2 linked regions of the Homo sapiens genome follow. The protein of the gene in region 1 purifies or fractionates together with the protein of each later gene. This does not show direct contact. Each region holds a gene or a part of one and is shown in the gene's direction. Other genes may lie near its edges.

Region 1 (5,167 bases):
GCCCAGGCTGGAGTGCTGTGGCATGATCTTGGCTCACTGCAACTTCCACCTCCCAGGTTCAAGTGATTCTCCTGCCTCAGCCTCCCTAATAGCTGGGATGACAGGCTCGTGCCACCACACCCAATTAATTTTTGTATTTTTAGTAGAGAGAGGGTTTCACCATGTTGGCCAGGCTGATCTTGAACTCCTGACCTCAGGTGATCTGCCCGCCTCGGCCTCCCAAAGTGCTGGGATTACAGGTGTGAGCCACCATGCCCAGCCTGGCCTGAGGATTTTTGTGAGCACTCCTGATGCTGTTGTGTAGCCAGGAGTGAGGACTGCCCTCTGATCACCCAGCACAGAACGTTCAGGGCCATGTTGGGACAGTGGACTGGTAAGGGCGAGAGGAGGACACTGGGGAGCAGGCTGTAGGGTGCCACAGTCCGCCACAGTCACAGGCTCATGCTCTCCGTCCGAGAGGAGGCAGAACTGCTTTTACCAAGGCTCATCCAGCCCTCTTCATTTCTCTGGGAACAATTTTTGGTTTCGTGACCCATTTCTTAATCCCCGGAAGGCATTTCTCTGAACTGGTGCCAGGCACCCCGGCCCCCAGCTCCAGTTAGTTATTATTCGAGGCTGATTTCTTTTCTGTCTGTCTTCCTTCTAATTCCTAGATTGGTGAACAGCCACCTCACTTCCAGTTTTTGCCGGGGCCTCTTTTCAGTTCTGAGCACCAGCCAGAGTCTAACTGAATTGGACCTCAGTGACAATTCTCTGGGGGACCCAGGGATGAGAGTGTTGTGTGAAACGCTCCAGCATCCTGGCTGTAACATTCGGAGATTGTGGTGAGTCCCCGTGCATGTGATCTGTGTGAGTGCAAGTTCATATGAGAGAGAGAGAGAGAAACAGACTGGAGAAAGATCTTCAGGACCAGGTTGCTGGTGTGGTTTCTTTCTTTTCTTTTTCTTTTTTTCTTTTTTTGAGGCAGAGTTTTGCTCTTATTGCCCAGGCTGGAGTGCAATGCCGTGACCTCGGCTCACTGCAATCTCTGCCTCCTGGGTTCAAGTGATTCTCCTGCCTCAGCCTCCTGAGTAGCTGGGATTACAGGCACCCACCACCATACCCAGCTAATTTTTTGTATTTTTAGTAGAGATGGGGTTTCATCATGTTGTCCAGGCTAGTCTCGAAGTCCTGACCTCAGGTGATCCGCCCGCCTCGGCCTCCCAAAATGCTGGGATTACAGGCATGAGCCACCGCACCCGGCCGGTGGTGTGGTTTCTGCTGTAACAAAGTGCCACAGACTGAATGGCTTCAACAACAAAAATTCATTTTCTTGCAGTTCTGAGGCCGAAAGTCTAAGATCAAGGTGTCAGCAGGGTTGGTTTCTTCTGAGGCCGCCCTCCTTGGTTTGTAGATGCCCCCTTCTCCCTGTGTACTGATGCCATCTTGCCTTGGGGGGAAGAGTGGCCTAGTCTCCTCTTCTTACAGGGACAGCAGTCCTGATGGATTAGGCACAGTCAGGCATGACTACACAAGACCTAATGTTAATCTAGTCACTCCTTTAAAGACCCCATTTCCCAAAACAGCCACATTATGAGGTCTTGAGGATTAGGGCTTCAACATGTAAATTTTTGGGGGGGCACAGTTCAGCCCAGAACAAGTGAGAAGGTAGAATGGGTTGGAGGCCAGCTGGGGAAGTTTTGTGTGGGGAAGAATGAATGAGGAACTAAAAAAAAAGTCATTTCTTGAAACAACCATGATGCTCGATATATTCCATTTCCTCATGGGCCATGTTCATAGATGAGAGTTGGAGAATTTGCCATTTACAACAATGGCAACCTCACCTAAAAACTATGAAAATACTTTTTTTTTTTTTCTTTGAGACAGGACCTCTCTCTGTCACCCAGGCTGGAGTGTGTGATCACAGCTTACTGCAGCCTCGACCTCCCAGGCTCAAGCAATCCTCCCACCTCAGCTCCCCCGAGTAGCTGGGACTACAGGCATGCACCACCATGCTGGCTAATTTTTGTATTTTTTTTGTAGAGATGTGGTCTCATCACGTTGCCCAGCCTGGTCAGAATGCTTTGTATGGGTTGAAATGTCACAGGGAATCTCCTGTGACTTTATTAATAATGTGCTTGCTCACACCTGTAGTCCCAGCTACTCGGGAGGCTGAGGCAGGAGAACTGTGTGTACCCGGGAGGCGGAGATGGCAGTGAGCCGAGATCGTGCCATTGCACTCCAGCCTGGGTGACAGAGCGAGATTCCATTTCAAAATAATAATAATAATAATAATAATAAAAAATGTGCTTGCTTTCTCCCACACCATGAATCAGATTCACACGCCCCACCGCGCTGGTGCCTGGGCCGCCTCACTAGCTCTGTTTCATTCCCTGCTCTGTGGACGCATGCAGGCGTCTGCATTTTTGAGGAGCTGCACAGCAAGTGTTAAAGTCCGCCACTCTAGGACATTTTGCTACCTCCCTCTCCGGCTCAACACACTCACCTTGTCACCAGTCTTATCAATTTTTCCTCCTACCCGAGCTGTTTTCCACTTTTCCTCGTCCTCACCCCACCAGCCCAGGTCCAGCAACTGTCACCACTTGCCTGGACACGCAGTGACCTCCTAGACCATCAGCTCCCCGGGGATGGGGTTTGCGTTTGTTTGTCTTGCTGTCATCTTTGCCACGCCTGGACAGACATCTTAGTACCCATCAGTGGTCAAAAGCACGCACTGAATGAATGTTGGCTCTTTGGTCTCCCTGTGTCTGCCTTTTTCCCTCACCCGACCATTCTCTGCACAAAAGTAAGATGGTCCTTTAGAAAATTCTGATTCGATTGTGCTGTTCGGTGGCTTAAATGCTTTCTGTCTGCTCTGCTCTTTATTTTTTACTTTATGTATTTATTTTTGTAGATGTAGGGGGCGCAAGAGCAGCTTTGTTTCATGGATATGTTACTGCACAGTGGTAGTGTCTGGGCTTTTACTGTAACTACCCCTTTTTTTTTGAGATGGACTCTCGCCGTGTTGCCCAGGCTGGAGTACAGTGGAGTGATCTCGGCTCACTGCAACATCCACCTCCTGGGTTCAAGCAATTCTTCGAGTAGTTGGGATTACAGGCATGGGCCACCACGCCCAGCTGATTTTTGTATTTTTAGTAGGGACAAGGTTTCACCGTATTGGCTAGGCTGGTCTCAAACTCCTGACCTCGTGATCCACCCGCCTCGGCCTCCCAAAGTGCTGGGATTACAGGCGTGAGCCACCGTGCCCGGCCTTAGTGTAACTCTTACCCAAATAGTGAACATTGTACCCAATAAATAATTTTCCAGCCCTCACCTGGCTCCCACCCTCCCACCCTTCTGAGGCTCTAGTGTCTATCATTCCATGCTCTATGGATGTTACCCTTTGTTTAGCTCCCACTTGTAAGTGAGAACGTGTGGTATTTGACTCTGTTTCTGAGTTGTTTCACTTAAGGTAATGGCCTCCAGTTCCATCTGTGTGGCTTCAAAGATGTGACTTCATTCTTTTCTATGGCTGAGCAGTATTCCATTATGTATATAGATCACACTCTTCATCTTTGCTCTTTTGGTAAATTTCAAATCGTAGTGCCATGGAGACTGGTTGTTTGGGACATTTAACCTTATTTCTCCAACTTCATGCCCAAATTCTCTCCCCACTGCCATTGCCCCTGTATGATTCTGGAGAGGCAGACACAAACAGGGAAGGGTAGGGGACAGTGAGATGCTTCGCAGAGAAGTAGAGATCCATTTGTCCATTTGCTTGAAGTTGGTGTAAGGATAGGGACAGAAAGGAAGGTGGTCTAACAGGCTCCAGGACCTATGAACTATTGCCCTGGAAAGAAGCTAGAATGTTGTTCTTGCCCCCATGACAGGGATAAAGTATAGTTTTTGTTGCTGGTGGTGGTGGTGACGGTGGTAGTGATGTGCGTGTGTGTTTGTGTGCATGTGTGTGACGGGGAAACTAATCAAGAATCAGAGCTGCAGCGGGATGTGGAATCCCAGCACTTTGAGAGGCTGAGGTGGGCAGATCACCTGAGCCCAGGAGTTCAAAACCAGCCTGAGCAAGCTGGTGAGACCTTGTCTTTAGAAGATAATAATAATAATAAAAATAAAATATAAATAAAATAAAATGGCTAAGCATGGTAGCACATGCCTGTATTTGCAGCCACTTGGGAGGCTGAGGCAGGTGGATCCCTTGAGCCCAGGAGTTCGAGGTGGCAGTGAGCTATGATCTCGCCAGTGCACTCCAGCCTGTGCAACAAAGTGAGACCCTGTCTTTAAAAAAAGAAAAGAAAAGAAAAGAAAAAGAATCAGAGCTGCTTTTCCTTTCAATATAGATGGAGGGCTGGGATGAAATCGTCAAACACAATGGGGTGACAATGTTGGTGAAGACAAGAAATAGCTGAGTGCAGCACTGGCGAGGGCAGTGCCGACTGCGGGCACGTCAATGGTTAGGAACACGAGGGAAGGAGGTGGGTGCACAGGCCCACACCGCCCGCTTCACTTACAAACCAGGAGCGCACCATTCACATGTCTGGGGGGTGATCTCAATGCACCCGGCACTGTTTACGGCCGGGAGTTCACTGACAGGTGATCCCTCTGCTGTGACTGGGGAGACTGGGGGCTGACCTCCCAATGTGCCTTGTGCTGTATTCCGGAGCTCTCTGGTCAGGTGTATTCTGATGCTTTCTCTATTCCAGAGCTCTCTGGTCAGGTGTGTCCTGATGCTTTCTCTATTCCAGAGCTCTCTGGTCAGGTGTGTCCTGATGCTTTCTCTATTCCGGAGCTCTCTGGTCAGGTGTGTCCTGATGCTTTCTCTATTCCGGAGCTCTCTGGTCAGGTGTGTCCTGATGCATTCTCTATTCCAGAGCTCTCTGGTCAGGTGTGTCCTGATGCTTTCTCTATTCCAGAGCTCTCTTGTCAGGTGTGTCCTGATGCTTTCTCTATTCTGGAGCTCTCTGGTCAGATGTGTTCTGATGCTTTCTCTATTCCGGAGCTCTCTGGTCAGGTGTGTTCTGATGCTTTCTGTATTCCGGAGCTCTCTGATCAGATGTGTTCTGATGCTTTCTCTATTCCGGAGCTTCCTGATCAGGTGTGTCCTGATGCTTCCTCTGTTCTGGAGCTCTCTGGTCAGGTGTGTTCTGATGCTTTCTGCCTCTGTTCTTGGCAT
Region 2 (4,560 bases), on another chromosome or scaffold:
ACTGTGGGACATCCATACATGAAATACTACTCAGTAATAAGGAGGGAGCTATGGATACACCCAGCAACTTAGATGGATCTCAAAGTCATGCTCAATGGGAAAAGCCAATCTCAAAAGGTTAAATACTGTATAGTTCTATTTATATAAGTTTCTCGAAATAGTAATAATAATAATATGGGGAACAGAGCAGAGGTTAGGGAGAGAGAAGGAAATAAAGGATAGCAACGCACTGACATTCCTTTGCAGTGACAGAATGGTCTGTATCTTTTTTTTTTTTTTAATCCATCAAGTCCTTTTTTTTTTCTTTTTGAGACAGGGTCTCACTCTGTCATCCAGGCTGGAGTGCAGTGGTGCGATCTCGGCTTACTGCAACCTCTGCCTCCTGGGTTCAAGCCATTCTGCTGCCTCAGCCTCTGGAGTAGCCAGGACTACAGGTGTGCACCACCACGCCTGGCTAATTTTTTTGTCTTTTTAGTAGACATGGGTTTTGCCATGTTAGCCAGGCTGGTCATGAACTCCTACCTCAAGTGATCCACCTCCCAAAGTGCTGGGATGACAGGCATGAGCCACGGCGCCCAGGGATTACACTTCAACATGAGATTTGGGCGGGGACAAATTTCCAAACTATATCTCACACACACACACTGAAAAATATGAGTACAGGCAAAATCTGGTGAAATCTTTTTCTTTTTCTTTTTTTTTTTTTTTTTTTTTTTGAGACAGAGCTGGTGCCTCGGCTGCCTGAGTAGCTGGGATTACAGGTGCTGCCACCATACCTGGCTAATTTTTTTGTCTCCACACCCAGGGATTACATTTCAACATGAGATTTGGGTGGGGACAAGTTTCCAAACTATATCACACACACACACACTGAAAAATATGAGTACAGGCAAAACCTAGTGAAATCTTTTTTCAAGCAATTCTCCTGCCTCAGCCTGCCAAGTAGGTGGGATAGCAGGCAGGTGTGCACCACCACGTCTGACTCATTTTTGTATTTTTAGTAGAGACAGGGTTTCACCATGTTGGCCATGCTGGTCTTGAACTCTGGGCCTCAAGTAATCTACCTGCCTTGGCCTCCTCTCAAAGTGCTGGGATTACAGGAGTGAGCCACCGCTCCTGGCCAACGTTCATAATTGTTGACCTGGTAATTGCCATTTCTGGTCATTTCTCCTAAGGAACTAATCCCCTAAAAGGTAAACACTATAGTTATTCTCATTTGTGATAGTAAAATATCCATATACAAACAAGTATTCCAAGAGGTAGGCAAACTAATTAAGTAAATTATGGTACATGTATTAATTGTAATATTGTTTAAATAATAAATTGATGAATATGAAACAAATAGTTATATTGTTATGTATGCATATGAGCAAGAAATGCATATGAAGACATGTAATTTTATTTGCTTAATGTTGCTTTCATGTTTATGCAATTTTATAACATAATACTGAGGTATGGCTAATGGATGAATAAAGTTGACAGTTTATTTTTGAATGGTTACCTGTTGTTGTTTTTTGTTGTTATTGTTTGTTTTGTTTTGTCTTGTTTTTTGAGACAGAGTTTTGCTCTTGTTGCCCAGGCTGGTGTGCAATGGCAAGATCTCGGCTCACTGAAACCTCCGCCTCCCAGATTAAAGTGATTCTCCTGCCTCAGCCTCCTGAGTGGCTGGCATTACAGGCATCTGCCACTGCGCCCAGCTAATTTTTGTATTTTTAGTAGAGACAGGGTTTCACCATCTTGGCCTGGCTGGTCTTGAACTCCTGACCTCGTGATCCACCCGCCTCAACCTCCCAAAATGTTGGGATTATAGGTGTGAGCCACTGCACCCCGTCTTGTTTTGTTTTTTTGTGTGTCGGAGTCTTGCTCTGTCGCCAGGCTGGAGGGCAGTGGTGTGATCTTGGCTCACTGCAACCTCTGCCTCCGGGTTCAAGCAATTCTCCTGCCTCAGTCTCCCGAGTAGCTGGGACTATAGGCACGTACCACCACGCCCAGCTAATTTTTGTATTTTTAGTAGAGACGGCGTTTCACCATGTTGGCCAGGATGGTCTCCATCTCTTGACCTGGTGATCCGGCCGCCTCTGCCTCCCAAAGTACTGGGATTACAGGCGTAAGCCACCGCGCCCAGCCGTTGTTTTTAATTCTAACACTAATAACGATTTTAAATTCTTTCTTGAACCCCTGGTCTTGTTTGTTTCCAGTTCTGTCCACTTTGCCGTTTAATACCCGATGAGAATCCAAGCAGCTTCAGTGGCAGTTTAATAAGACATCTGCAAGTTAGTCACACTTTGTTTTATGATGATTTCATAGTAAGTATATTTTCTTATTTTTACATTATGTTTTCATGCTGTCTTGTTAAGCTTACCTTTCCGATCCAAGTGAATAAAATTATAGAGGAAAAAATGTGTATATAGCTATAGTGTTGAGTATTAGCATTAAGTAAGAAATCATGAAAATAGAATGTTTTGGCCTGGTGCAGTGGCTCACGCCTGTAATCCCAACACTTTGGGAGGCCGAGGTGGGCGAATCACTTGAGGTCAGGAGTTCAAGACCAGCCTGGCCAACATGGTGAAATCCTATCTCTATTAAAAATACTAAAAATAAAAAAATTAGCCAGGCATGGTGGTACACGCCTGTAGTCCCAGCTACTCGGTAGGCTGAGGCAGGAGAATCGCTTGAACCCAGGAGGCAGAGGTTTCAGTGAGCTGAGATCACACCACTCCACTCCAGCCTGGGCAACAGAGTGAGACTTTGTCTCAAAAAAAAAAAAAATGAAATGCAATTTCAAGATAAAATTTAATAACGATTGAAGATTGTCATTTGAGAATTTTCTCCATGCTTTCTATCTGCCAATTATTATTATCCAGGTTGGATACAAGGAGCTCAGGTTCTAAACTAGTTTTAAGCAATAGCTCTGTCATATATGTGCGACCTTGCAGAAGGTATTTAACCTCGGAAACTCAGTTTGTGCACTGGTTAAGGGAAGAGATTAAAAGCACCTACTCCCAAAATTCTTCTTAGGATTAAATGAGATAATGTATATAAAGTGCTTTGCACAGTTCAGGTGCAGATGTTAGGCAAATTGGAGATGGGATGGGAGTAGAATTGTTAGGACCACTTGAGGAACTGAACAAGGAACATGACAGAGGCTTTAAATTCTCAGCTCCATATCTCTAAGCATGTCTTTTGTGGCCCATATGGCACACAGGCCTCAACAGAACTTGGTTCTGGTCTATGTGTTCTCTCTGGTAATACAAAGAGGTTTCTCTTGGCCGGGCGTGGTGGCTCACACCTGTAATCCCAGCACTTTGGGAGGCCGAGATGGGCGGATCATGAGGTCAGGAGATCGTGACCATCCTGGCTAACACGGTGAAACCCTGTCTCTACTAAAAATACAAGAAAATTAGTTGGGCATGGTGGCGGGCGCCTGTGGTCCCAGCTACTCTGGAGGCTGAGGCAGGAGAATGGTGTGAACTCGGGAGGCGGAGCTTGCAGTGAACCGTGATCGCGCCACTGCACTCCAGCCTGGGTGACAGAGCGAGACTCCGTCTCAAGAGGTTTCTCTTTACCTTAGCTCTATGAGGTGTTCTAAAAGCCAGGTCGATTCTATGGCTGTTCTGTCTAATCATGCTCAGTCTGTTCTCAAGATCTTTCAGACAAAGCATGATCCAGAGCTAGGCAGGATGAAGCCACTTTGATAGGAATACTTTCCAGCCACTCACAGCCATATTCTTGGGTAGGGAAGTGAACTGGAAGTAGTGTTCTTTGTTTTGATTTTTTGCTTCCTGAGCTACTATATACTAAGCTAAGCACTATATGTATATATCACATTTTATTCCTTGTAGCAACTTCCGTGAAGTGAATACTGTATTTTTATCTTCATTTAACTGAAATATCTGAAGCTCAAAGGTTAACTGAATTATCTAAGAACAAGCCAGTATCAAGACCAAACCTTGTGTTCTGCTGTACTTTATGACTTTCCTTTGGATTTTGTGGGGGTTTTTTTGTTTTGTTTTTATATTGCAGAATGGACTTTGAATAGAGATTTCACCTTTTGTTATTGCGGAAGAGGAGAGGGATTGCAGAGGATAGGGTTCTTAATGGTTTTTGTTTTACTTATAGAATGTGCTGACATAGAATTTTGAATTCCACTTTGACACATAGGAGGCAAGGAGAAAGTTTTGTTTTTAACATTTTCTTCAGAAGTAGCCATTCAGTGGTACTGCTGGCATTGGTGAAGCCTGTGGGGGAGCCTGAACTTTGCTCCATTTTACAGGTTTATGTGGAACATAGCACTCTGACCAGGATTTGTAATGGTGACTAAAAACTTCTCATTATATCAGATAAAAACTTCAAATTTCAAATCAAGACTGTTTATTATGACAGTAACTAGTTAATCGATAGACAACAAAGTGAAGTAGAAAATTCATTAGCCCCAAAGCAAAAGTCCTGGGTTCTATGACAGGCTTTGTGGAACCTTGGACAAGTCTCGTAACTTTAGTTCCCTACAAAATGAGGGTGTTGCATTGACCCTCATCCTCTAGTTTCTGAAATACTATTGAC

Evidence for each region. The genes of interacting proteins can lie anywhere in the genome.
Region 2: the proteins of NLRP3 (region 1) and RNF125 purify together in Homo sapiens (affinity purification with western blotting, with the first as the bait; one study listed by BioGRID). This does not show direct contact.

What each region holds. Positions count from the first base shown.
Region 1 is NC_000001.11:247,428,932-247,434,098, forward strand, and holds part of NLRP3 (NACHT, LRR and PYD domains-containing protein 3), read left to right. Parts: intron 1-653; coding exon 654-824; intron 825-5,167. UniProt on the Homo sapiens protein: Sensor component of the NLRP3 inflammasome, which mediates inflammasome activation in response to defects in membrane integrity, leading to secretion of inflammatory cytokines IL1B and IL18 and pyroptosis.
Region 2 is NC_000018.10:32,063,704-32,068,263, forward strand, and holds part of RNF125 (E3 ubiquitin-protein ligase RNF125), read left to right. Parts: intron 1-2,198; coding exon 2,199-2,306; intron 2,307-4,560. UniProt on the Homo sapiens protein: E3 ubiquitin-protein ligase that mediates ubiquitination and subsequent proteasomal degradation of target proteins, such as RIGI, MAVS/IPS1, IFIH1/MDA5, JAK1 and p53/TP53.